Linked DNA regions of Homo sapiens. The protein of the gene in region 3 purifies or fractionates together with the protein of the main gene of each other region. This does not show direct contact. Each region holds a gene or a part of one and is shown on either strand. Other genes may lie near its edges.

Region 1 (6,103 bases), on a different chromosome or scaffold from region 3:
CAAGAAAATTTCTAACCAAAGAAATTAAATTCCATTTGAAATCAATGTGTTCAGTATGTTATGTGGATCCTTTTCATATTAGACAATGTAAAAATAATTTAATTGCCTGACACATCCTGTATGGGAAGTGATTCCTGAAATAAGGATTCTGATGTGAATTCTTACATTTCTTAAGTACTTCATTAGAAATTCTATTGTTCATAAAATTTTTACCAGATGAAAACTTTAATTCGTTGACTCACTTTTTACTTTCCTCCTTGAGTTTACCAAACGAGAACCAGAAGATACGAAAAGTGCAGATTCTGATCGAGATGTTTTTAATGAGAAACCTTCTAAAGAAGAAGTCATGGCAGCTACTCAAGCTGAAGGACCTAAACGAGTTTCGGACAGTGCCATTATCCACACCAGCATGGGAGACATTCACACCAAACTTTTTCCTGTTGAGTATGTATAACAACTGTTTTTATTGGCTTATGTAATTAAGAATGTAAATGTGTATATCTGAAGAAACCATGCAACTTAAAATTCCCGTTACTTTGACTTAAGGAATTTTGAAGAAACGTTTGATAAAAAACATCTATTCCTGAGCTTTCTGATAAGTGTTACGGTAGAAAATGGGAAATTTTTATGCATATATACTTTATAGGTTCATTACGAGGACAAAATGTATTGGCTATGAAAGTGCTGAGTGTAAACTGTAAAGTGATACACAAATGTGTATCACTGTTACTGTTAACAGCACATCTGAACTCTAGGTTTTGTGGATTGCTTTGCTTTCCTCTCAAAGCAAATCCTTAAGAGAAAGATAATTATGTTTCCTTACCAACAGTTGCTAGATACCTACTATCTCTTTATAGTTTCAGTAGCTCTGTGTTTTAAAAGTGAACTACAAGCTGGGTGCAGTGGCACGCACTTGTAATCCCAGCTATTCAGGAGGTTAAGACAGGAAGATCAGTGGAGGCCAGCAGTTTGAGACTAGCCCGAGCAACACGGCAAGACTCTATCTCTTAAAAAAAATTTTTTTTTATTAGCTGGGCATGGTGGCACGCACCTGTATTCCTGGCTATGCTAGAGGCTGAGGTCAAAAGATGTCTTGAGCTCAGGAGTTTGAGGCTGCAGTTAGCTATGGTCAAACCACTGCACTCCAACCTGGGCAACAGAGTGAGACCCTGTTTCTACAAAAACAAATTACAACAAAACCGTAAGGGCTTCAATTGAAAAAAAGGTGAACAGTTTTCTGGACAGTTTAAAAGACTGTAAAATTAACATACAATGTCAAATACAGTAGAGTATCTCTGGCCATTCTTGACCCAAAAAATGACATCTTTTACAACACTTTTACTTAAAAGTTCTTATTTATTAACATTTTGAATATGAACGTTTTATACCATATCTTGGTACTCAACAAATAACTAGGCAGCTCTAGACTCTTGGACAGTCTCACTTTAAGTGCTCAAAACCCATGTACTCTTCGGCCTTGTTTGCTGATGTACTTGGGTACAAGATTCTCTTGGTTCGTCCATTTCCAGCTCTTAGAAGTATTACATGGTAATGAACCGTATGAAATAATTGCATAATTTTCAGTTAATATTATTGAGAAAGCTTCGTACTCTGAGTGTGATTGTCATTTAAAGTTGAATAAATTTAGATGTCATTTCTATGATTAAGGTTTTGGCCAAGAGTATGTCGCTGTAGCATAACAATGCTTTTGTAAGAAAATGACCTTTCCCAGGAACTTAACCTATACTACTACATGCAGACCTATAATACTATATGGAGTAAACTAACTTAAGATATTGGGCCAGGTACAGTGGCTCAGGCCTGTAATCTCAGCACTTTAGGAGGCTGAGGCAGGAGGATGTCTTGAGTCCAGAAAGTCAAGATCAGCCTAGGCAATATAGTGAGACCTTGTCTCTTAAGAAAAAAACATATTTTTAAGGTGCTATGGCTGTATTTTTTTTGACTGCTAAATGACCTTGAAATTTTAATACTGTCAAACTCAAATATTAGTTAAGCAGTCATGTTCTAAAGATAACTAAGTTGAACAATAAGAATATACTACTTACATGACCCTCCGTGCTTGTCCTGAGATTAGAGATTATGAAAAAAAAAAACAACTGTCCTTCTGAAACATTCAGAAGACATGGAAAGGAAACATCATTAGGAAGCAGAACTGCAAAGAAAACTGTTTTAAGATGCTCTGAATAGGTTTCATATTTGTAACATATGTCTTAATAGGTGCCCTAAGACAGTGGAAAACTTCTGTGTTCACAGCAGAAATGGTTATTATAATGGGCATACATTTCACCGTATAATTAAGGTAAGTTACATAAATTTCATGTCATATAAGAAATACTGTATTATTACATAGCAAGAGATTTAAGCGCAAGGAATCTTCTTCTCTCACACTTAATCAGTTTAGTGGAAAGGAACAGGAAAAATACACTATGGAAGCCAAAGGAGGAGTGGATGGTCATAAATATCAACATCTAGAATCAACAGGAATAGTGGCATGATTAGAAACACTGAAGCAATATTTTGTCAGCAGCTAAAGTAAAGGGTAAGATAATGAATAAAGGGTCATGCTGAGATTACATCAGTAACCTAGGTAACCTCTTTGTCGTGGCTAGATAGGGTCTAGATCTAGAAGATATGATTTTTCAATCATAGAGGAGCCACAGTGCCATCTGATCTGTGAGAACCTGTAATATACCAGAGGAGGAGAGAGAACTCAGCCCCTGGATTTTGTTGAGCAGCTTTCCATAAAGTGGATGGGGCACTGATACAGTGCTTGGTTTCTGGCAGGTCAGAAACGGCAGGATGAAAAGTCAGATCTCAGGGTCCTAAAGGAATTAGCGAAAAGGCTTTCCAGGAAATCCAGAGTATTTGGGGAAAGGGAGAGGGAGAAGAGGAGGGCAATTATATAAAACATAACATACAGATCCTAAAATTGATAGTATTAACTGGCTTTATTTGGGTTATTGAGAAAGACAGAACATGTCTATAAATGAGAAGACGACCTTTGCATTTATGTTTCAATCAAGGTGGTGGTTGGGCAATGGAAATACATCATCCAAATTTAAGTGTTAAGGGTTTAATCAAATCACTTTATAGTGACAGTTAATATTACACTGAATACAAAGCACTCTTGGCAGAAATAAAACTTCAAAGCGTACATATATCGAAAAGGACAATGTAATGTTTTTGTGTACTTTCTGTTAAGGGCTTTATGATTCAGACTGGAGATCCAACAGGTACTGGTATGGGAGGAGAAAGCATATGGGGAGGAGAATTTGAAGATGAATTTCATTCAACATTACGACATGACAGGCCATACACACTCAGCATGGCTAACGCGGGATCAAATACTAATGGATCCCAGTTTTTCATAACGGTAGTACCAACGGTAAGTACAGTATCATTGTTTATAAACTACAGATTGATAGGTTATGATGTAAGAGAGTGAACTCAGTAGAAGAGCTGCATTATTCTGTATTTTCTGCATTATTTATATCATCTAGCAGAATACAAATATGAAAATGATCAAGAATATAAAATTATGTGACTAATCAGTTTAGAATTGGTAAAACAATACTGCCACTGTAGTAAGAAATACAATGGACTACGATTCAAGATACTTGAGTTTCAATCTCAACTCTGCCTCTACTGATGATGTAACCTAAAATAAATTATTTCACTTCTGTGAGCCTATTTCCTTGTCTTTAGAATACAAAGATTAGAGTATATGAATTCACAATTTTGAGACAATTTCCCCCACATTTTAGTATCTCTGAAATCAGAATACATTAGATTTGATGAAATACAGTATAAGGTAACCTAGCTCTATTGCTATGCCATAACACAAAATTATAAAAATTACCTAGTTTTTGTTTTGGAATTAAGCACTAAGTGATGAAGAAGGGAAAAATGTAACTACCATCTGCCAGGCACATAGTTTTATGTAGTATTCACAGTACTTCTACTATCAGTATCCCCAGTTTTCAATAATAGATGAAGAAACAGTGAGACATGATTAACTTGCCAAAAGGTCAAGTAGCCAAGCTAGCATTTGAACTCCCACCTGTCTAATGCCAAAGTATGTGCTGCATAAACTATTTCAAACTGCCTCTGAATAAACTGTTCAGGTAAGAGTCCTCCAGAGACCTTTTAAAGCCTTAGCCACAATTCTGTAAGCCATGTGAAGTAACTTACCTTTAGGGAAGATCTTCCAGTTCCCTTTGGTCTGAAAGATGCAGATATTTAATTAAACATTATACTATGCTTCTATTTTTTTTAACACACTGGAAATAACTTTTAAAAGCTGCTACATTTTTATTGCTGAGAAATTATTGTACTTCTTTTTAAATATATGCTAAAGGGGAGCGTAAACTTAAATTCTCTTTAATTTGCTCAACCAGAGGATATAATTTAAAGAAATTGGGGTTTACCAAGATTTTCCATTTGTCCTCCAACACAGCCTTGGCTTGATAATAAGCATACAGTATTTGGACGAGTGACTAAAGGAATGGAAGTTGTACAGAGGATCTCCAACGTCAAAGTCAATCCCAAAACAGATAAGCCCTATGAGGATGTCAGCATCATAAATATTACTGTCAAGTAAAATAAGATTTGTTTTAATGTACTTGCAAATAAAAATACAATATTAAACAGATTATTTTACATTAGGAAGCTTAGGACTTGCTGAATATACAGATCATGTTTCAAAGATACAGTATTTTTGTATTTTTTATTAAAGGCTATTTTTTAAAAATTACCTTTGACTTTTCTCGCAATATTTCTAATCCTGGGAGGTGATAAATTGAAATGGACTAAACTCAGGCAAATAGCACTCATTATAGGTAATTTCTAATCAGCCTCAAATTAAATATTAAATAATTACAGTACTCTCCTCCACCCCCTTTCCCATGGTTTTCTTTCTACTGTCAACCATGATCCAAAAATAGGTGAGTACAATACAGTGAGATATTTTCAGACAGCAAGACCACATTCACTAACTTTTATTACAGTATACTGCTATAGTTGTTCTATTTTATTGTTGTTAATCTCTTACTGTGCCTAATTTATAAATTAAACTTTATCATAGATATATATATATGAAAACACAATATATATGGGGTTTAGTATCATCTGAAGTTTCAGGCATCCACTGGAGGTCTTAGAAGGTATCCCGTGCGATGACAACTCTATTAAATAATGACAGTGGTACACAACTGTGCTTTAATTTTGAATACCTGCCAGATATTCCGCCCTTATGTTTAGAAGAGTGCAGATCCCTCCTATAAGAAAAAAATACTAGGATATGATATTATATGTCATTTCCTTTGTTTTACAAGGTTTCAATGCCAAATATTTTAGTCTTTTGATAACTGTTTAGTAAGTAGTGGTGAGTAAAGCCTCAATAAACAGGAAGTTACTTTGGTCAAAGTGTTATATTCCTTAATAATTATGAAATATTCTTTCAAATGAAAGATTCAGAATAAGTGAATACCTGAGTCCTTAGTTTATTATATGCAGGTTGATTTTCAGATTATTTTTCTAACATAGGTAAACAATTTTTTCTGTCCTCAAGTTATAGTATATCTTTAGAAAATATACCATTAAGAAGTATACATAAAAATTTTGGTATCTAACAATGGAGAGATTAGTAGAAATTGGAGCAGTAAAACAATATGAGCACAAATTCTTATATTGATCTTCTTCACTTACACTTATAACTAACTTCATAACTATTAAGACTCACTGCTTCGTTTCCAGAAAGAAAGACTCTTTCTTTCAGAAACTTACAGGAAGAACATTCTCAACAGACCTGTGTAGGGAATTTATATTCTTAAGTTTTAAATCGGCTTAAACTTTTCCTTCTATTGATCAGCAGGATTCTTTATTTATTTCGTGCTACAAAGTTGTGAGATAGATAGGAGATTATGCCAGATTGTGCTCCTGTAATGTATGCTCCTTTTTAAAAGTAGAACTTAAAGTTAGACATGAAAATGACTTTTCAATGTGACATTTACTGTTTCTAATTTTAGTTGTTTAGTCTTACCTACCTAGCTTTATTCATTCCTAAAAATTTAATCTAAATTTT
Region 2 (6,103 bases), on a different chromosome or scaffold from region 3:
ATCAAAGGTTTTATCTGGGTCCAAGCATTCATTAATAAAGGTCTTATATTTCTCAGCATAGTAACATGATAATAAGCAAAGGGCAAATACTTACAGAAATAGTGAATGGCGTGAGCTTTTTCTTATTGATGGCTCTTTCATCAATTGTATCTGGTTCAGATAAGTTGATCATTTTGCTAAAGAGAAAATGAGAATAATTTAGTTTAATACTCCAAGAAATTTTTTTAGTTTATTATTGCAAACAGCCAAAATAGATAAATTTTGAAAATAACAATTCATTACTTTAAAATATTAAACAGTAAGCCAGGCATGGTGGCACATGCATATAATCTCAGCTACTTGGGAGGCTGAGCCCAAGAGTTTGAGGCCAGCCTGTGTAAAACAGAGAGACCTCATCTCAAAAAATAATAATAATAATTAATTAAACTATAATTCATGCCGGAACTTAATTCTTAAAATCCAAGAAATATTCCCATTCCTAAAACAAATCCATCACTCACTGCAATAGTAATCTAAGCATTTCTCCTAATTTTTTTTAACCATCCTGAATTTTCTTTTTTTTTTAAGAGGGAGTCTACCTCTGTCACCCAGGCTGGAATGCAGTGGTGTGATCTCAGCTCACTGCAACCTCCACCTCCTGGGTTCAAGTGATACTCCTGCCTCAGCCTCCCGAGTAGCTGGGATTACAGGTGTGTGCCACCTCTCAGCTAATTTTTGTATTTTTAGTAGAGATGGGGTTTCACCATGTTGGCCCGGCTGGTCTCAAACTCCTGACCTCAAGTGATCCTCCTGCCTCAGCCTCTCAAAGTGCTGAGATTACAGGCATGAGCCACCACGCCCAGTCATCACCCTGAATTTTCTTTATGTTAGTTTTGTCTTTATTTCACTTAATGATCATCAGTATTCCGCAGCCTAAAACAAAGAAATTCTCCAAGAAGCCAAGTTTCATAAAGTAGTATCAACACTGTTAAAATTACTGTTGTTGCAGAAAGATACGAAGCCAGAGATTTCATCTAAGACCAATAATTTAGACATTTTCAGAGAAATTAATATAAATTTTGTCTCTATATTTTAGAATTTTACCTTTTAAAACAAGAATAGGAAAATACCCATTTGGTTCATAATAGGAATTTCTCTGAGAGTCAAAGAAAGATAAGAATTGTAGGTGGAGGTCAAGGTATATTTTATATTTAATGTCATAAAATCTAATATCCTGTACTTATGGGTAAGGTTTTGTTTTCCTTTTTAAGTAAAAACATAAAAAAAAAGACTGAAGGAAATGTGTTAGAATATTAATAAGTCATTTATGGGTGGTAAGGATATTTTTGATGGTTATTTTCTACTTTGTAAATCTTTTGTACTTTTTATAAACTAAAGAAAAGACCTCTGCTTTGTCCAAAGAAGTATGCTGGGACTGTGGTACACACAACAATGACAAAGACATTCCCTCAGAGAGTTTACAACATAGTGAGAAAAAATAGAATGCAAAGAGCCAAGGATAACACAAGGCTGAATCAAAACATTATTTTCATTTAGGTACAAATAAGGAATATCTTCCCTTTACATTTCCTCATGTCCCATTCCAGTCAATAATCAATACTCGCTTACTGGAAAAAGAAAAGAGAAACCCTGCGAATATTTAAAACTGCATCAGACAAATAACTCAAAAGATTCCTGGCAATTATTATAGTAATACACGTAAAAGGCAACAGAAAAACAAGGGATTGTATTTGAAGGAAAATTTTGGAAATTTTCCAATAGATATACAGTAGTTCATTTTCTATGCAATATAAATTCCTCATGACCTAAGTAGCTACTGACTCCAAAAGACAATGGACAGCTGAATTGGAGTTTTCATGGAATGCTCATCAATGTAATCAGCAAGAACGCAGCTTCCTTAACCAGAAGTTCAACTCACCAAAGAAGGATGCCATCTGCAAGTGACTTGAAAAGACTATCATCATTGGGATTCATGGGTATAAGATGCTTACAGTCAGGGTCATTCTCCAGGGCTTTGTTTATCCAGTTAACAAAAGCCACTTTTTCTTCCTCTGAAAGGAGAAAACCTTGGTAGGCAAATCTCATTTCACAAACTTTATTGCACTATAAAAACATACATAGCTATTGCACTACAAAAACATACTTGTTAATTTCTGCTCAAAGATAATAATTGACCATTATTACAAATCTACTAAAACACAAAAGGGTTCAAGAAAAGAAGAAAGGTGGCTGGGTGTGGTGGCTCACGCCTGTAATCCCAGCACTTCCCAAAGCACTTCCAAGGCGGGCTGATCACTTGAGGTCAGGAGTTCAAGACCAGCCTGAGCAACATGGAGAAACCCCCGTCTCTATTGAAAATACAAAAATTAGCCAGGCATAATGGCACATGCCCATAGTCCCAGCTACTCGAGAGGCTGAGGCTTCAGGATTGCTTGAACCGGGGGGTGGAGGTTGCAGTGAGTGGAGATCCTGCCACTGCACTTTAGCCTAAGCCACAAAGAGAGACCCTTTCAAAAAAAAAAACGGGGAGCACGGTGGCTCACGCCTGTAATCCCAGCACTTTGGGAGGCTGAGACGGGCAGATCACGAGGTCAAGAGAGCAAGACCATCCTGGCCAACATGTTAAAACCTCATCTCTACTAAATAAACAAAAATAAATTAGCTGGGCATGGTGGCGTGGGCCTGTAATCCCAGCTACTTGGGAGGCTGAGGCAGGAGAATGACATGAACCCAGGAGGCAGAGCTTGCAGTGAACCGAGATCGCGCCACTGCACTCCAGCCTGGTGACAGAGCAAGGCTCTGTCTCAAAAACAAAAACAAAAAACAAACAAAAAAACAAACAAAAAACTGATCTATTAGGAGAGATGAAGGTATATATCTTAAATGAGCACAATATATATTTGGTTTGATTCAAAAATATTTCCAAATATGTATTGCTTCTGAAAGCTAATGAGTCAGAAGCAGACCATCGGAGGTCAAATATGTATATGTTAATTAAATAAGGAAAAAAATACAAGAAACAAATACCATGGCAATAAATCCCATCCTCCCCAAAAGGTTTAGAGAGCTGTGATTTTTAGCTTACAACAGAAATACTGAATTCAGTCAAGAGTTATTCAAATGAATAAAACAGCTCAATTTCAATGGAATTTAACTATTAAAAAATTGACACAAATTGGCTGGGTGCGGTGGCTCATGCCTGTAATCCCTGCACTTTGGGAGGCTGAGGTGGGCAGATCACCTGAGGTCAGGAGTTTGAGACCAGCCTGGCCAACATGGCAAAACCCCATCTCTACTAAAAAATACAAAAATTAGCCAGGTGTGGTGGCAGGCACCTGTAATCCCAGCTACTCTGGAGGCTGAGGCAGGGAGAATTGCTTGAATCTGGGAGACGGAGGTTGCAGTGAGCCGAGATCACGCCACTGCACTCCAGCCTGGGCAACAGAGCAAGACTCTTGTCTCAAAAAAACAAAAAACGAAGAAAAAATTGACACAAATCTAGATACCAGCACTATCTTTGGCCATCTTCATCCAACAACTTCTCAACACATGGCTTCTAGTATGGGTACATTGATCTTAAGTAGAAAATTTTGTTGGGTTATGCAGTGGGGAAAATAGGAAGGAACTTAAAGTAAAAACATTGTACAACTTTATTATTATTCTGTAGATATAAAAACCATTTAAGATTATAAATCCTTAAAGTAAATAATCCCCATTTCCATCAGAGGGTAGCACATAATGATTTGGCCTTCTCCATTGTTGCCCCAGTTCCTAGAATTAAGTAATTTTCCCAAGGGAATATTTTGCAGGTACCCCCAAAATTTAATCCACCACACATACATACACACACAAGTCAACAAAAACACAAATATGTACTAATATTTCCTCTTTGTACATATCATAATCTGCCTTATCTTCTCGCCTCCTCATACACACCTCCTTAGAAGGATTTGGAGTCTAGGAATTCAGAGATCACTAAAATACTGTATCTGCCATTGAGGAATTTTTTAGTGTAATTGTAAAACAAATATACAAAGAAATGTGATATAAGGGAAATACACACACCACCAGAAATATATATGCAATGTTTGCAGAATTTAAAAAAAGAAGCAATCACTTTTAGTTAGGGTGATCAAGAAAAGGCTTCATAGAGGAGGTACTATTTGAAATATAGTTTTTCAATAGGTGAATATAGGCAAGGAAAGAAAGGATGTTTCAGGTATAGGAACCAGGAATGAGATACCACATCACAACCACTAGGATGGCTGTAATTTTTTAAATGGACAAAAACAAGTGTTGGTGAGAATTGAAGAAACTGGAGCCCTCATACATTGCTGGTGGGAATGTAAGATGGTGCAGCCACTTTGGACCTTGAGAGCTTGTTTGGAAGTTCTAGCAGGGGAGTGCAGCTACTCGTATACCCTTGACCAAAGACCAGTCCTCTTCTATTGGGATGGTTGTCCTCTTCAACCGAGCACGCAGCTTCGGGAAGGACTCACATGGAGCACTGAGGGAGGAAGGGGACACCTGCCTAGCCAGCCAGATCAGCCAAATCAACCCTGGCAATCAATGGGGTGACAGATGTCGCAGCCAGATCGCCCTCACAAGTGCAGCCACTTTGGAAAACAATTTGGCAGTTCTTTAAAAATGATAAACATAGAGTTAACAAAAATTCAAGCAATTCTACTCCTAAGTATATGCCTACGAGAATTCAAAGTATATGTCCACACACAAATGCATTCATGAGTGTTCATATAGCATTATTTATAATAGCCAAACACTAGAAACAACCCAAATGTCCATCACCTGATGAAAGGATAAACAAAATGTGGTATTGCCCATAGAATGGAATATTCAGCAATAAAAAGGAATGAAGGGGCCAGGTACCATGGCTCACACCTGTAATCCCAAGGCAGGCAGATCGCTCGAACCCAGGAGTTCAAGATCAACCTGGGTGACATAGCAAAACCCCATCTCTACAAAAGATAGAAAAATTAGCTGGGCATGGTGGTACACATTTGGGAGGCATGGTTATGCACTTGGGAGGCTGAGGTGGGAGGATCCCTTGAACTCTGGAGGTCGAGGCTGCAGTCAGAAAAAAAGGAATGAAGTATGATATATGTGACAACATGGATAAGCCTTGAAAATATTACACCAGTGAAGAAGCCTGTCAAATGAAAGGCCACTACAGTATGATACCATTTATATGAAACTTCCAGAATAGGCAAATTTGTAGAAATAGAAAGCAGTTTAATGGTTGCAGAGCCTTCGGGAAGAGGGAAATGGGGAGTGACTGATAATGAATATAGTGTTCTTCTTTGGTGTAATGAAAGTGTTCTGAAATTAAATAGTGATGACAATTGCACAACTATGAATACACTAAAAACTACTGAACTGTATACTTTAAAAATGTATTCCATGGTATGTCAATTATATCTCAATAAAGCTGCTATTTTTTATAAAAGCCATTAAATATTCCATATATTTTTCTAGAGAATAGTTATATAGGTGTATTCATAGGTTAAAAGAAATCATCAAGCCATATACTTAAGAATAGTACACTTCAGCCTGGTGTGGTGGCTCATGCCTGTAATCCCAGCACTTTGGGAGGCCAAGGCGGGTGGATCATGAGGTCAGGAGATCGAGACCATCCTGGCTAACACGGTGAAACCCTGACTCTACTAAAAATACAAAAACATTAGCTGGGCGTGTTGGCGGGCACCTGTAGTCCCAGCTACTCAGGAGGCTGAGGCAAGAGAATGACGTGAACCTGGGAAGTGGAGCTTGCAGTGAGCCGAGATCGCACCACTGCACTCCAGCCTGGACGACAGAGCGAGACGCCATCTCAAAAAAAAAAAAAAAAAAAAAGTACACTTCATGCACTTTACTACAAGTATCTTATACCTCAAAAAATAAGTAAACAAAAATTTATGGTGACAAATATCAGAAAAGAGGTTACCTCTAGGGAAGAATAGTTACTATCAGGGGAATGAGGGAGTCTTCAGGTGATGAAAAGATTCCATGTCTTGTTCTGGTTGGCAGCTACATGAATGTATATACACATGGAAAAATTCATTGAGCCATATACTTAAGATTATAGCAC
Region 3 (6,103 bases):
TTTAGAATAATTATGTTCCAAGTATTGCAAGCAATACACTTATAGTAAAAATCACCATTGTTTATTTGATAGTCAAATTTAACCTGGCATCCTGTATTTTATCTGGAAGCCCTACATCTCCAAGTAGATAACTTTCTAATCTCAAATCCCAGATTTTTATGTGCAAATGCCTCCTTGTGCAGTTTACCACTTGAATGTCCCACAAGCCCTTTAAACACAACAGACCTCAAACTGCACTTAGTACTTCCTCCAAAATCCTGTTCTAACCCCTCAGTAAATGGTATCACCATAAACCCCAAAACCTGTAAGTATCCTTGGACTCCTCTTTGACCTTCACACCCATAAACAATCTCTAAATTTGATCAATCCTACCTAACCATTTTTAAATCTATTATCTTTTCCCACTTTATTGTTGATACTCAACTATTAAACACACCACATTCTCTCACCCCTCCATGACGTGGCTATTTTCTCTGCTATATTTTCTCTGTCTGAAACTCTTAGTCAATTTTTATAATACAATTGCTACCTGCTATGTGAAACCTTCCTCTCCTTCCCATATAGATTTAGGGCTCCTTCCCCTATGCTCCCAATGCACCTCACACAATTTTAAAGCACTTACCTAAGACTGTGATTTTGTATTTTTTTTTTTTCAGATGGAATATTGCTCTGTTGCCCAGGCTGGAGTGCAGTGGAGCAATCTCTGTTCACTGCAGCCTCCGCCTCCTGGGTTCAAGTGATTCTCCTGCCTCAGCCTCCCCAGTAGCTGAGATCACAGGCATGTGCCACGAAGCCTGGCTAATTTTTTTGTATTTTTAGTAGAGTTGTGGTTTCACCGTGTTGGCCAGGCTGGTCTTGAACTCCTGACCTCAAGTGAGCCACCTACCTCGGCCTCCCAAAGTGCTGGGATTACAGGTATGAGCCACCACTCATGGCCTTGATTTTGTATTTGCACAAAAGGTGGCACAGGCCAGGCACGGTGGCTCACGCCTGTAACCCCAGCACTTTGGGAGGCCGAGGCAGGTAGAGTTCGAGACCAGCCGGCCAACATGGTGAAACCCCGTCTCTATTAAAAATACAAAAATTAGCCAGGTGTGGTGGTGGGCACCTGTAATCCCAGCTACTCGGCAGGCTGAGGCAGGAGAACTGCGTGAACCCAGGAGGTGGAGGTTGCAGTGAACCGAGATGGCGCCACTGCACTTCAGCCTGGGCTACAAAGCAAGACTCCATCCCAAAAAAAAAAAAAAAAAAAAAAGAAAGAAAAAAAAAAGGTGGCACAAAGCAGCAGAAAGCATACAAGTTTGAAGACAATTAGGTTTAAATGAGAATGCATAAGATATGCTTAGCATAGCTTCTCACAAGGCACAGTCACTCAACAAATATTACTTCTCTCATTCTCATAACTTTTCTCTCCATTACACTATCAATTACCTTGAGAGCAGAAGTCCTATCTTTTCATCTCTGTAGCCTTTCTGAAAACAAAGTAACTAATACAGTTTACCATCCTGGTTAAGGGTTTGGGCTCTTGAATCAGACTGCTGGAGTCCAAATCCTGACTCAACCATTTATTAATTATGTGACTTTTAACGGGTTACTATCTAGGACTCAGCTTCCTCATGGGTAAAGTGGGAAGAGAAACAGTACTTAACTGAGGGTTGTGAGCATCGAATGGATTAAGGTATGTAAACTGCTCACAACAATGTTCAAGTATTATGGATTACAGCAGGCAGGAATAAAAACTCACTGAATGAATATGAATACTCAACATATATGAATATAAGGACTAAACTGCAACTTTTTTTTTTTAGATGGAGTCTCCCTTTGTCGTCCAGATTGGAGTGCAGTGGCGCAATCTCAGTTCACTGCAACCTCCGCCTCCCAGGTTCAAGTGATTCTCATGCCTCAGCCTCCTGAGTAGCTGGGATGACAGGCGCCCACCACCGCGCCCGGCTAATTGTTGTATTTTTAGTAGAGACAGGGTTTCACCAGGTTGGCCAGGGTGGTCTTGAACTCCTGACCTCAAGGGATCTGCCCACCTCAGCCTCCCAAACTGCTGGGGTTACAGGCACAAGCCACCGCGCCTGGCCTTCAACTATAATTTTAATATCCAGAACAAACTCTTAGAAAATCAGAAAATAAAAAACATTTTTATTTATCTCTTATTTTCCAATATTCAAAGGAGATTCATCAATGCAACATAGAAAATAATACACAATTTGTTCAATTGGCTTTTCAATCATAGTCTATACCCTCAATCATGAAAAAATATAGCCTATTCACCTGAAAACATTAATATAAACCAAAGACAACTGAGCAGTTCCTACCCTCTTAAATATACAATCTAAGCTGCTAGGGAGATTTCCATTATCACAATTTTTATATTCAGAAAGAACATTGAATTAACTTAAAGCACATTATTTGTTAAGTGTATAGGCAAGGTATAATGAAAGAAATATTGCATCTGGAGTAACAACAAACTGTTGTATCCCAGTTTTACCATGAGACACTGGTGAAGTCACTTATTCCTTCAGGTTCAGCTTCCTTATATGTGAAAGAGGCTCTTTTATTCCAATTATTGAACATGTACTTTGTGCCAAATCCTGTGCTAGGAATTGGAGATTCAGGTCAATAAGACCAATTTCTGACTTCAGAGAGACTGCAGTCTAGTGTGTCAATGAAAGATGAGGAGGAGATGGCCAGATTAGTATAATCAGTATGAAGACAAAATTCATTGACCTGTAGATACCATAATAAAAGTGATTGCACTATACAATTAAAAAAAAGAGAGAGAGAACAGCTCATTCTACTTGTGAGTGAGAAACTTCATCTTAAAAGAGGACAAAATTTTGCCAGCCTACCTAGCTTATTTCTTCTTCCACCGGCACAAGAAATGGCAGGTGCAAAGGCAGGGAAATAAAATGCAACCGAGTTTTAGAAGATAGTTTTGAGTGAACTGCAAATAGCTGGCAGCAGCATAGATTTGAAAAGGTGGAAACAATGAATGATGACACTGGAGAGGGAAACAAAGGCCTAAACATGGATGGTTTGGATGTCACATTGAAAGATCTTTGCTTCATCACACTGGAGGAAACAGGGTCTTTAAAGGGAGAAATATCACTCGATCTATACAGTACAATGGCATCACTGTAGAGTGTTTTGATGGGATATGTGACTGAAGGAAGGAGAATAGGTAGGAAACTATTATAAAAGTCCAAATGAAAAATAATGAAATAGTTCAGGCATGATGGCTCATGCCTGTAATCCCAGCACTTTGGGAGGCCAAGGCAGGAGGATTGCTTGAGGTCAGGAGTTCAGGACCAGCCTGGGCAACATAAGGAGACCCCGTCTCTACAAAAACTAGCTGGGTGTGGTGGAGCATGTTTGTGGTCAGCTACCTGGGAGGCTGAGATGGGAGGATCGTTTAGAGTGCAGTGGCCATACTCACACCACTGCACTCCAGTATGGGCAACAAAGTGAGACCCTGTCTCAAAAAAAGGAAACAAAAAAAAGAGAGAGAGAAATAATGAAATATAGAAGAACATCATGGGTCAGATACAAAAAATATTTAAAAGCTAAAAACCACAAAACCTGGCAAAGAAATGGTTACTTTAGGCAGAGAAAGAGTAAGAATTTACCATCTGGAGGGAAAACAAGTAGCATGGATGCCACCATCCCCCACTCCACATCTAACAGACACTACCTCAGAACTCTTCTTAGCCCAGCACTCTAGCAAGGCATAGAGTTCATGAGTGAAACAAAACCTACCTGACATCCCTGTCTTCTTATGATACTGCCTGTGGCTGGGCATGGTGGCTTACAACCATAATCCCAGCACTTTGAGAAGCCGAGGTGGGCAGAGCACTTGAGGTCAGGAGTTTTGAGACCAATCTGGCCAACATGGCGAAACCCAGTCTCTAACAAAAATATAAAAAATTAGCCAGGCGTGGTGGCGCACACCTGTAATCCCAGCTACTCAGGAGGCTGAGGCAGGAGAATCGCTTGAACCTGGGAGGCGGAGGTTGCAGTGAGCCAAGATCGCGCCACTGCACTCCAGCCTGGGAGTGACAGAGCAAGACTCCATCTCAAAAAAAAAAAAGGAATGATACTGCCTGTGAGATGGTGTGAAAAATAAAATTGTTTTTTATTATTTTAAAATATAATTGCTTTGCTGATACAATAAAGTCAATAACTTTGAGTGTAAAGCGAAAGAACTGTCCCAGAAGAAAAATTCCTTGCCAAAACAACTAACTCATCTCTCCCATTGATTTTATTTTATTTTTTTTTGAGACGGAGTCTCACTCTGTCACCCAGGCTAGAGTGCAGTGGCGCAATCTTGGCTCACTGCAAGCTCCGCCTCCTGGGTTCACGCCATTCTCCTGCCTCAGCCTCCCAAGTAGCTGGGACTACAGGCGCCCACCACCACGCCCAGCTAATTTTTTGTATTTTTTGTAGAGACGGGGTTTCACCGTGTTAGCCAGGATGGTCTCGATCTCCTGACCTCGTGATCTGCCTGCCTTGGCCTCCCAAAGTGCTAGGATTACAGACGTGAGCCACTGTGCCCAGCCTCCACATTGATTTCCGTGCTCTCCATTCTGGGTCCCTATGGGGTAGCCAGAATGATCTTTCCAAACACAAATCTGTTTCATCTTACTTTCTCACTTAAAACCCTACAATTGGCCAGGTGTGGTGGCTCACGCCTGTAATCCTAGCACTTTGGGAGGCTGAGGTGGGTGGATCACCTGAGGTCAGGAGTTTGAAACCAGCCTAGCCAACATGGTGAAACCCCGTCTCTACTAAAAATACAAAAAATTAGCCAGGCGTGGTGGCAGGCGCCTATAATCCCAGCTACTGGGGAGGCTGAGGCAGGAGAATCACTTGAACCCGGGATGTGAAAGTTGCAGTGAGCCACCAAGATTACAACATTGCAGCAAAACTCCATCTCAAAACAAAAACAAAAAACCCTATAATGGCTATCTACTGCTCTTAGGATAAAAACCAAAATTTATAACAAGGTCTGCTACGTCCTACATAATCCAGCCTTAAACTATATATACAGCCTTATCATAGAGAAGCAGAATAGCACAAGTTCTGGAGTCTGACCACCTGGATTTGAATCCAGTCTTTGTCATTTACTACTAACTGTGATCTGTGGTAAACTATTTGGCTTTTTTGAGCTTTGGTTTCCTCATCTGTAAAATGGGGATAATAATATGGTGGTAAGAATGGTGCCTGACACACTCTTAAGCATATATAAATATTAAGTTAATAATGTCACATATGATTATGATATAATATATACTACATACTGATATACTAATGCCAGCTATTTTTATTGTTGTTGTTTTAATCATTATCATCATCACCATTTTCATACCTTTTCTGTTCCAGGCTCACTGTTCCTGCAGGTCTTAAAAAGAACCATGCATCTTTCCAACTCAGGGCTTTCCTATTCACAGTTCCCTCTGTCTGTAATACTCTTCTCCATACCCTTTGCCTAATCAATTCATTCTTCATAATTCAGCTTACACATCCTTCCCTTAGAGAGGCCTTCCCTAGCCATCCCCAGGCAGACCACAACCAAAACTAGGTCAGATTCCCCATTTTAGGCTTTTCTTCCAGAGTACTTGTCATAGTTTGTAATTATATATATTACTTGACCAATACTTTTGTAATCTCTGCCTCCTCTACTAACATATAAGCTCTACAAGGGAAGGGACTAAGCTGACTTTGCTCAATCCTGGATCCCCAGAGACTAGCACAGACCACAAATTCTTAACAGAATAAAGGAAAGTACTACCAGATACAAGAGAATTTTTTTTAAGTGACAAGTATGGAAAAATGGTAAATATATTACTTTCCTTCCACACACAAAAAAATCATGTAGTTATAGCTTTCATTCAAAGAGCAAAAAACCAGCCAGGAATGGTGGCTCATGCCTGTAATCCCAGAACTTTGGGAGGCCAAGGTGGGTGGATTGCTTGAGCTCAGGAGTTTGAGACCAGCCTGGGAAACATGGCCAAACCCCGTCTCTACCAAAAATACAAAAAAATAGTTGAGCATGTTGGTGTGTGCCCTGTGGTCCCAGCTACACAGGAGGCTGAGG
Region 4 (6,103 bases), on a different chromosome or scaffold from region 3:
TGGAAAAATGCCCCTGATCACTCTCTCCAAAGCACAGCTGCGTATCACAGGCACGTGCCTCCTCCTTGCAGTCTGAGATCTGAATTAGGCAAACTGCCGAGACTCTCTGAGCAGGGACCCCAGTATGTCCCCTTCGGTATGGGGTTGTTCTGTGCAGGACAGCCCCACGGTTCCCCACACTGTTCCAGGGAAAGAAGCGGGGCCCACAGTGTCCAGAGAAGACTCGTTGCTGGGCCTCAGTCCTCAGGCAGAGCTAGTCCCTGTGAGCAGATTCGTGGGGGCTCTGGCTGGCCGAGTCCGAAATTCCCAGTGCCATGGGGACATGGGAGAAGATGGGGGCTGGGGGATTAGAAGATTGGGAGTATTAATCAGTTCTGAACAACGCCACCCTCCTGGGAGCCCCCGAGGGCTGAGCCCTGAGTCCTGCCCATGGAGGCTGTAGGGGAGGGGATGCTGGTCATAGTGCCTCCCTGGTAGCCTTCGAGGCCATCAGACACTGGGGCCGGTTCCATCCAGGGGAGCCAGGAGAAGGACCGCTCTTGTTTAGCTGGGAAGAGCGGCTTGCTCAGTGTCACACAGCAGTCTGAATGTCGTCTGGAGCCAGCAGAGAGGCCTTTCCCAGCAGAGCTCATTTCCTGTCCCCTCTTTGCTAGTGCCTGCAGGCTCCCTGGTCAGTCCCACTCTGGCCCTGCCCTGCCTAACAGCCCAGGGAGCAGAAACAGTGACTGCATCTTGGCTCGAGGGGGGTTCCCGTGCCCACCTACCTTTCCATTTCCAGGCTCTCCACTCGGGCCACAAAGTTACTGGGCACATAGCCTTCTCTTCCTGTGACGAGTGACCTGGCCAGCCACCAGTCTCCAGTTCTAATGGGAGCAGGGGAAACAGAGATGAGATCATGGCCCCTGTAGGCCCGTCACTGGGCAGCTCTCAGGCCTCCTCAAAGTCATCTCTCCCTGGAGGGCAGAGAATCCGCAGGGGTAGAGAGTACGGCAGGCAGGAAGGGGCTTGTGCCCACTGCTCAGTGGTACAGTGGCTATCCGGGCAAGTTCTAGGGGGAAGAGCTTATCTACACAGCCTGACCAGCCAAGAGGGCACAAGGATCCAGCCAGCAGCCTTCCTCTTGATGAATGGGACGTGTTCAGAGCTTGGTGAGGGACTGGGGACAGGCTTGAGAAAAACACGGTTGGCGTGGACTGTATAGAATCAGCAGTCAGGACCTTCGTGAGCTTGGCTCAGGGCCTTTGGAGAACTTCAAGAACCAAATCAGACCCTCAGAGCTCCACAGGACAAGCCTGGCCACTGAGAGAGAGCTGACCTAGAAGGAGTTTCTGAGAAGGACATGGGAAATGAGCTAAAGCGGGATTGGTGTGTGTCATCAGTGTGGGCTCCTGTCTTGAAAAGGAGACAAATATGGACACAACTGGCTTAAATGCAAGGCTTTCACGGAACAGCCAGACCAGCCTGCATAAAGGACAAGGTCCACATGCCCAAAAGAGTCAGGAGGGCTGCATGGAGGCGGTGGCATGGAACGTGGACTTTGAAGGATGAGCAGGAGGTTGTGAATGGAAATTACTTCACCGGAAAGATTTTGGAGAGGAAGACAAAAGGGCCAAGTTCAAGAAAATGCTGGGGCCAGGGCTGGGGGCAGGGCGATGGAGAAGACTTCCAGGGTCAGCCATGGAGGATGTGGTGGGTGGAGAAAGGAGAGATGTGGGGGAGGGGGGTCCTGCAGGGACAGGGGATGGTGTCCTGGAACCTCACCCCTTCAGGACCTGTAGCTTCTCCCCCTTCAGCATCTGCAGGTCCCGATCATTCATAGCGGTGTAGTCATACAGAGCCACCACGAAATGCTTGTCTAAAATGAACAAGGGAGAGATGACCACCACTCAGGCCCACAAGCGGGAAGGTGGGGCTGGGGTGAGCCTGGCTACCAAGGAGGACAGGCTTCTGCTTGCCCACGATGGAAATGATGTTCTCACCCAGCACAGGCCCCCACCCCCAGCCCTGTGACCCCACCAGGGATGGGCTGCCCCCCAGAGCCCATCCTGTCCTCCGTTGTGGACCCACTAAGAAGCCCTATGACCTGGACAAGGCGTGTGTGAGGAAGCTGATGGCCAGAGGTCAGCCACAGGGAGGCAGCCACTGCCGGGCTGCTGGTGGCCTCAGGCCCACATTCGGACATAGTGCTGGGAGCCCTCATCTTCTTATTCTACACCTGCCCTCGGAGGCCCATAAGCCTCCTCTTATCCTTTTCCTCCTCTGCCCCGCCTGCCTCTATCCCCAGTAGGGGTGGTCTTGCCACGTGGCAGCTGGAGCCCTGGCCTCTCCACTGTCTGTGCCCAGAGCCCCAGCCACACTGTCTATGGCTGCCAGTGACCCTGCCGGGCCCCCCACCTTGCTGGCGGGCCCTGGATGGAAGGCAGGAAGAGGGCTCAGGAGCTTGGAGCACCATCTTCAAGTGAGCCCTGCTGTGACGCAGGCTCTCTGCACAGCTCTGGGAGCCACAGGACCCACCTGATGAAGGTCACCTGGAGAGCACTTAGCTTCCCCGGGTGGGGTGGCTCCGCTCTGTCACTGAGCTGAGTGTTGTGACCTCGGGCTGGTCACCTCTTCTCAGCAGGAAAGCGAGGGTCAGAATGGGTGACAGTGGTTCCCTGAAGTTTTAAGATTCAGGTTCTGCTCACAAGTGTGACAGATTCTGAGCTTTTCCAGGGAAGGGGTCGCATCTACCTGTTGTCACCCCTTCGCCATTCCTGGGACAGAGCTGGGCTCTGTGTGCTGAATGCCCAGTACACATCATATGAGCAGGTTAATGGGTGGGGCCCGGCTGGCCGAGGCATCCCTTCCCCATGCTGTGTGGACATGGATGATGAGGAGGCTGCGGGAAGTCACTTTGAAGGAGGCCACCCTCTTGGGAGTCCCCAGGGGTGGAGCCTCTGGCCCAGAAAGGCTGAGCTCATTCCCTACAGTACCCAGCAGGCCAGCCCACCAGAGCAGAAGTGGAGTCTAGGGGCCACGCACAGTGGCTCACGCCTGTAATCCCAGCACTTTGAGAGGCTGAGGCGGGCAGATCACCTGAGGTCAGGAGTTTAAGACCAATCTGGCCAACATGGTGAAACCCCCTCACTAGTAAAAACATAAAAATTAGCCCGGTGTGGTTGTGTGCACCTGTAATCCCAGCTACTTGGGAGGCTGAGGCAGGAGAATCTCTTGAACCCGGGAGGTGGAGGTTGCAGTGAGCTGAGGTTGGGTCACTGCACTGCAGCCTGGGTGACAAGAGCGAGACTCTGTCTCAAAAAAAACCAAGTGGAGTCTGGGGACCAGGTAGGGGCGTGGGTGGTTAGGTGGTCAGCAGCGGGACTCTCGAAGTGACTGGGAGCGGGAAACAAGAAGGTGCCCTCCACATAGAGCGGACAGGGGCTGGAGGCAAGGGCCTGGAGCCACTGGCCCAGCCCTTTGCGTTTGAGAGTTAGCATATTTTAAAACTTGGGTTTGATGATGCTGTGTGTCTTCCCTGGGACTCTTGTTTTTGTTCTTGTTTACAGTTTGTAAAGTCTTTCATGTTTTAAAAGTCCCACCCAGGCTCAGGCATACTGAAGAAACTTGTTCTTGGTTCCTGAAGAGACGCCCCAAGAGGCACAGAGCCGGGGCCTCTCTCAGCTTCCCCGTTTTCTCTTCTCCAGCCCTCAAGCTGCTCCTGACTCAACCTTTTTCCAACTCCACAAAGCTGCCACCTAGGGGAGAGGGCTGTGGAGCCTCAGCTTCCCAAACCACCCTTCTTACCTTCATCCAGGTGTTCATCGGGCGGTGGAGGAGTAAGGTGGTTGAAGACAACCTTGGGTAGAAAACACACACTTGAGTTATTTCAGTCCCTGCTGCGTGGGTGGGGCCTGGGGGTTGAGACTGCTGAGCCGGGCAGCCAGGGTATCTCCAGGGACCTACTGAAGGAGGAGAGGCAGCTGCCTGTGGGGGCTGCTCAGGGACATTCTGTACCCAGGGACCAGCACTACCCTCAGACAGACCCCCGCCCTCTGCTGCCTTTGCCCTGACCGCGCTGGGGGATGCCCCAATGTGGATATGAGACAGCTGTGGACAATGAGGGAAAGCCCAACCACTTGGGCTTAACATCCTGGCTCTACCATTACAAGATCAAACTGCAAACGGGTATTTGTTGACAAGAAAAAATATTTAAAAAGCATATTTCCCCAAAACTCGACAAACATATTTGTAGGTATATATCCTGTAGAGAAACTTCTGTGTATGTGTACAAGAGTGTACAAGGGAATGTGTACAAGAGGGCTCCTAGCAAAAATCATAATACATAAACAATTTTTTTTTGAGATGGAGTCTCGCTCTGTTGCCCAGGCTGGAGTGCAGTGGCGTAATCTCGGATCACTGCAACCTCCGCCTCCTCAGTTCAAGCAATTCTCGTGCCTCAGCCTCCCAAGTAGCTGAGATTACAGGTGCCCGCCATCACGCCCAGCTAATTTTTGTATTTTTAGTAGATACAGGTTTTCGCCATGTTGGCCAGGCTGATCTTGAACTCCTGGCCTCAAGTGATCCTCCCACCTCGGCCTCCCAAAGTGCTGGGATTACAGGCGTGAGCCATCATGCCCGACCGATACATAAACAATTTTAAAACGTGGAACTAACCCTCATGACAGAAGAATAAACAAATTACAGTATACTCAGGCAATAAAATTAATGAGCAACAGCCACGTGCATCAACGTCGATATGTTTCACATGCGTAACACGGAGCCACAACCCCAGTCTCAGAAGCATATGCGCTGTTTGATGTAGTTGATTTAAAGTTTACAACATGAATAATGAAACTAAATATCGTTTAGGGGTAATACATATGTGATAATATTAAAAAGCAAAGCTAAGGAATGATAAACAGATTCTGGGTATTGGGGCCTGGGGTGAAGGGTACAAACAGGGGAGGGAGGAGGGAGATTCAAAGGAACGAGTCTCTTTCTTGTCTGAAGTTGGGAGGTGGCTATACAAGTGTGCGTTTTGGTGTATTCTTTCAACCTGACATATGTTACAAATATTCTTTTCTTAATTCCATATTTATTGAACACAATTTTGAAGTAGCATTTTGCAAAATGATGTGCATGTATGTTTCTCTTAAAAATAGGAACACATGAAATGAACACACGGAAGAAGGGTCTCGAGGCAACTCTGGTGACTCTACATAGTGGAATAATGAGTAATTATAATTTTTTCCATATACATATTATGTGACTCTTTTAAGTGAAAAAAATTCCAGGTGCTACTACTTATTATCATATAATTTTGGGGAAATTACTCAATCAGTCTAAGTCCAAGTTTCCCCATTTGATCAATTATTTATTCAATAAACATCTTGTGGTTGTGCGCTGAGACTGGCGCTAAACTGGGACACAGATAGGTAAGATGCCTGGGTTCATCTAGGAAGTGGGATTAGTAATCCCCGTCTCCCCATCAGGTCCCTGTTAGGATAAAGAGATGACCACGTGGACATGTGGACAGCACAGGAGAGGGGGTCGCGGCAAGGCTCCCAACTGCCCCAAACCAAAAGGGGGTCACTGGTCAGGGAGTGGAGAGAGCACAAAGAATCATCTAAAAATGTATCTTCAGGCCCGGCACGGATGCTCAAACCTGTAATCCCACCACTTTGGGAGGCCAAGGCAGGTGGATCACCTGAGGTCAGGAGTTCAAGACCAATCTAGCCAACATGGTGAAACTCTGTCTCTACTAAAAATGTAAAAATTAGCCAGGTGTGGTGGCATGTGTGCCTGTGATTCCAGCTACTCAGAAGGCTGAGGTACGAGAATCACTTGAATCCAGGAGGCAGAGGTTGCAGTGAGCCAAGGTCCCACCACTGCACTCCAGCCTGGGCAGCAGAGCGAGACTCTGTCTCAAAAAAAAAAAAAAATGCATCTTCAGACATGCTGTAGCCATCAAAAGGAGCTAAGTGTTTTATAAACAAATCAAACTGCATGACTAGGAAAATGCATTCCCCAGCAATAAGACCTTTTCACTTGAAATTTCACTTTTTTTTTCCTTTGGAAAGTTTTCCTCATTTAAAATGCCCATGGGATTCCAGGAAAACTTAAG

What was found.
Region 1: the proteins of ZMYM6 (region 3) and PPWD1 purify together in Homo sapiens (affinity purification with mass spectrometry; one large-scale study listed by BioGRID and IntAct). This does not show direct contact.
Region 2: the proteins of ZMYM6 (region 3) and PLS1 purify together in Homo sapiens (affinity purification with mass spectrometry; one large-scale study listed by BioGRID and IntAct). This does not show direct contact.
Region 4: the proteins of ZMYM6 (region 3) and BLK purify together in Homo sapiens (affinity purification with mass spectrometry; one large-scale study listed by BioGRID and IntAct). This does not show direct contact.

Annotation. Positions count from the first base shown.
Region 1 is NC_000005.10:65,582,776-65,588,878, forward strand, and holds the end of PPWD1 (peptidylprolyl isomerase domain and WD repeat-containing protein 1), read left to right. Parts: intron 1-262; coding exon 263-444; intron 445-2,238; coding exon 2,239-2,320; intron 2,321-3,223; coding exon 3,224-3,406; intron 3,407-4,477; coding exon 4,478-4,621; 3' UTR 4,622-4,774; downstream 4,775-6,103. UniProt on the Homo sapiens protein: PPIase that catalyzes the cis-trans isomerization of proline imidic peptide bonds in oligopeptides and may therefore assist protein folding. May be involved in pre-mRNA splicing.
Region 2 is NC_000003.12:142,672,105-142,678,207, reverse strand, and holds part of PLS1 (plastin-1), read right to left. Parts: intron 2,052-6,103; coding exon 1,919-2,051; intron 177-1,918; coding exon 95-176; intron 1-94. UniProt on the Homo sapiens protein: Actin-bundling protein. In the inner ear, it is required for stereocilia formation. Mediates liquid packing of actin filaments that is necessary for stereocilia to grow to their proper dimensions.
Region 3 is NC_000001.11:35,024,234-35,030,336, forward strand, and holds part of ZMYM6 (zinc finger MYM-type protein 6), read right to left. Parts: intron 1-6,103. UniProt on the Homo sapiens protein: Plays a role in the regulation of cell morphology and cytoskeletal organization.
Region 4 is NC_000008.11:11,543,784-11,549,886, reverse strand, and holds part of BLK (tyrosine-protein kinase Blk), read right to left. Parts: intron 3,836-6,103; coding exon 3,784-3,835; intron 1,856-3,783; coding exon 1,762-1,855; intron 864-1,761; coding exon 765-863; intron 1-764. UniProt on the Homo sapiens protein: Non-receptor tyrosine kinase involved in B-lymphocyte development, differentiation and signaling. B-cell receptor (BCR) signaling requires a tight regulation of several protein tyrosine kinases and phosphatases, and associated coreceptors.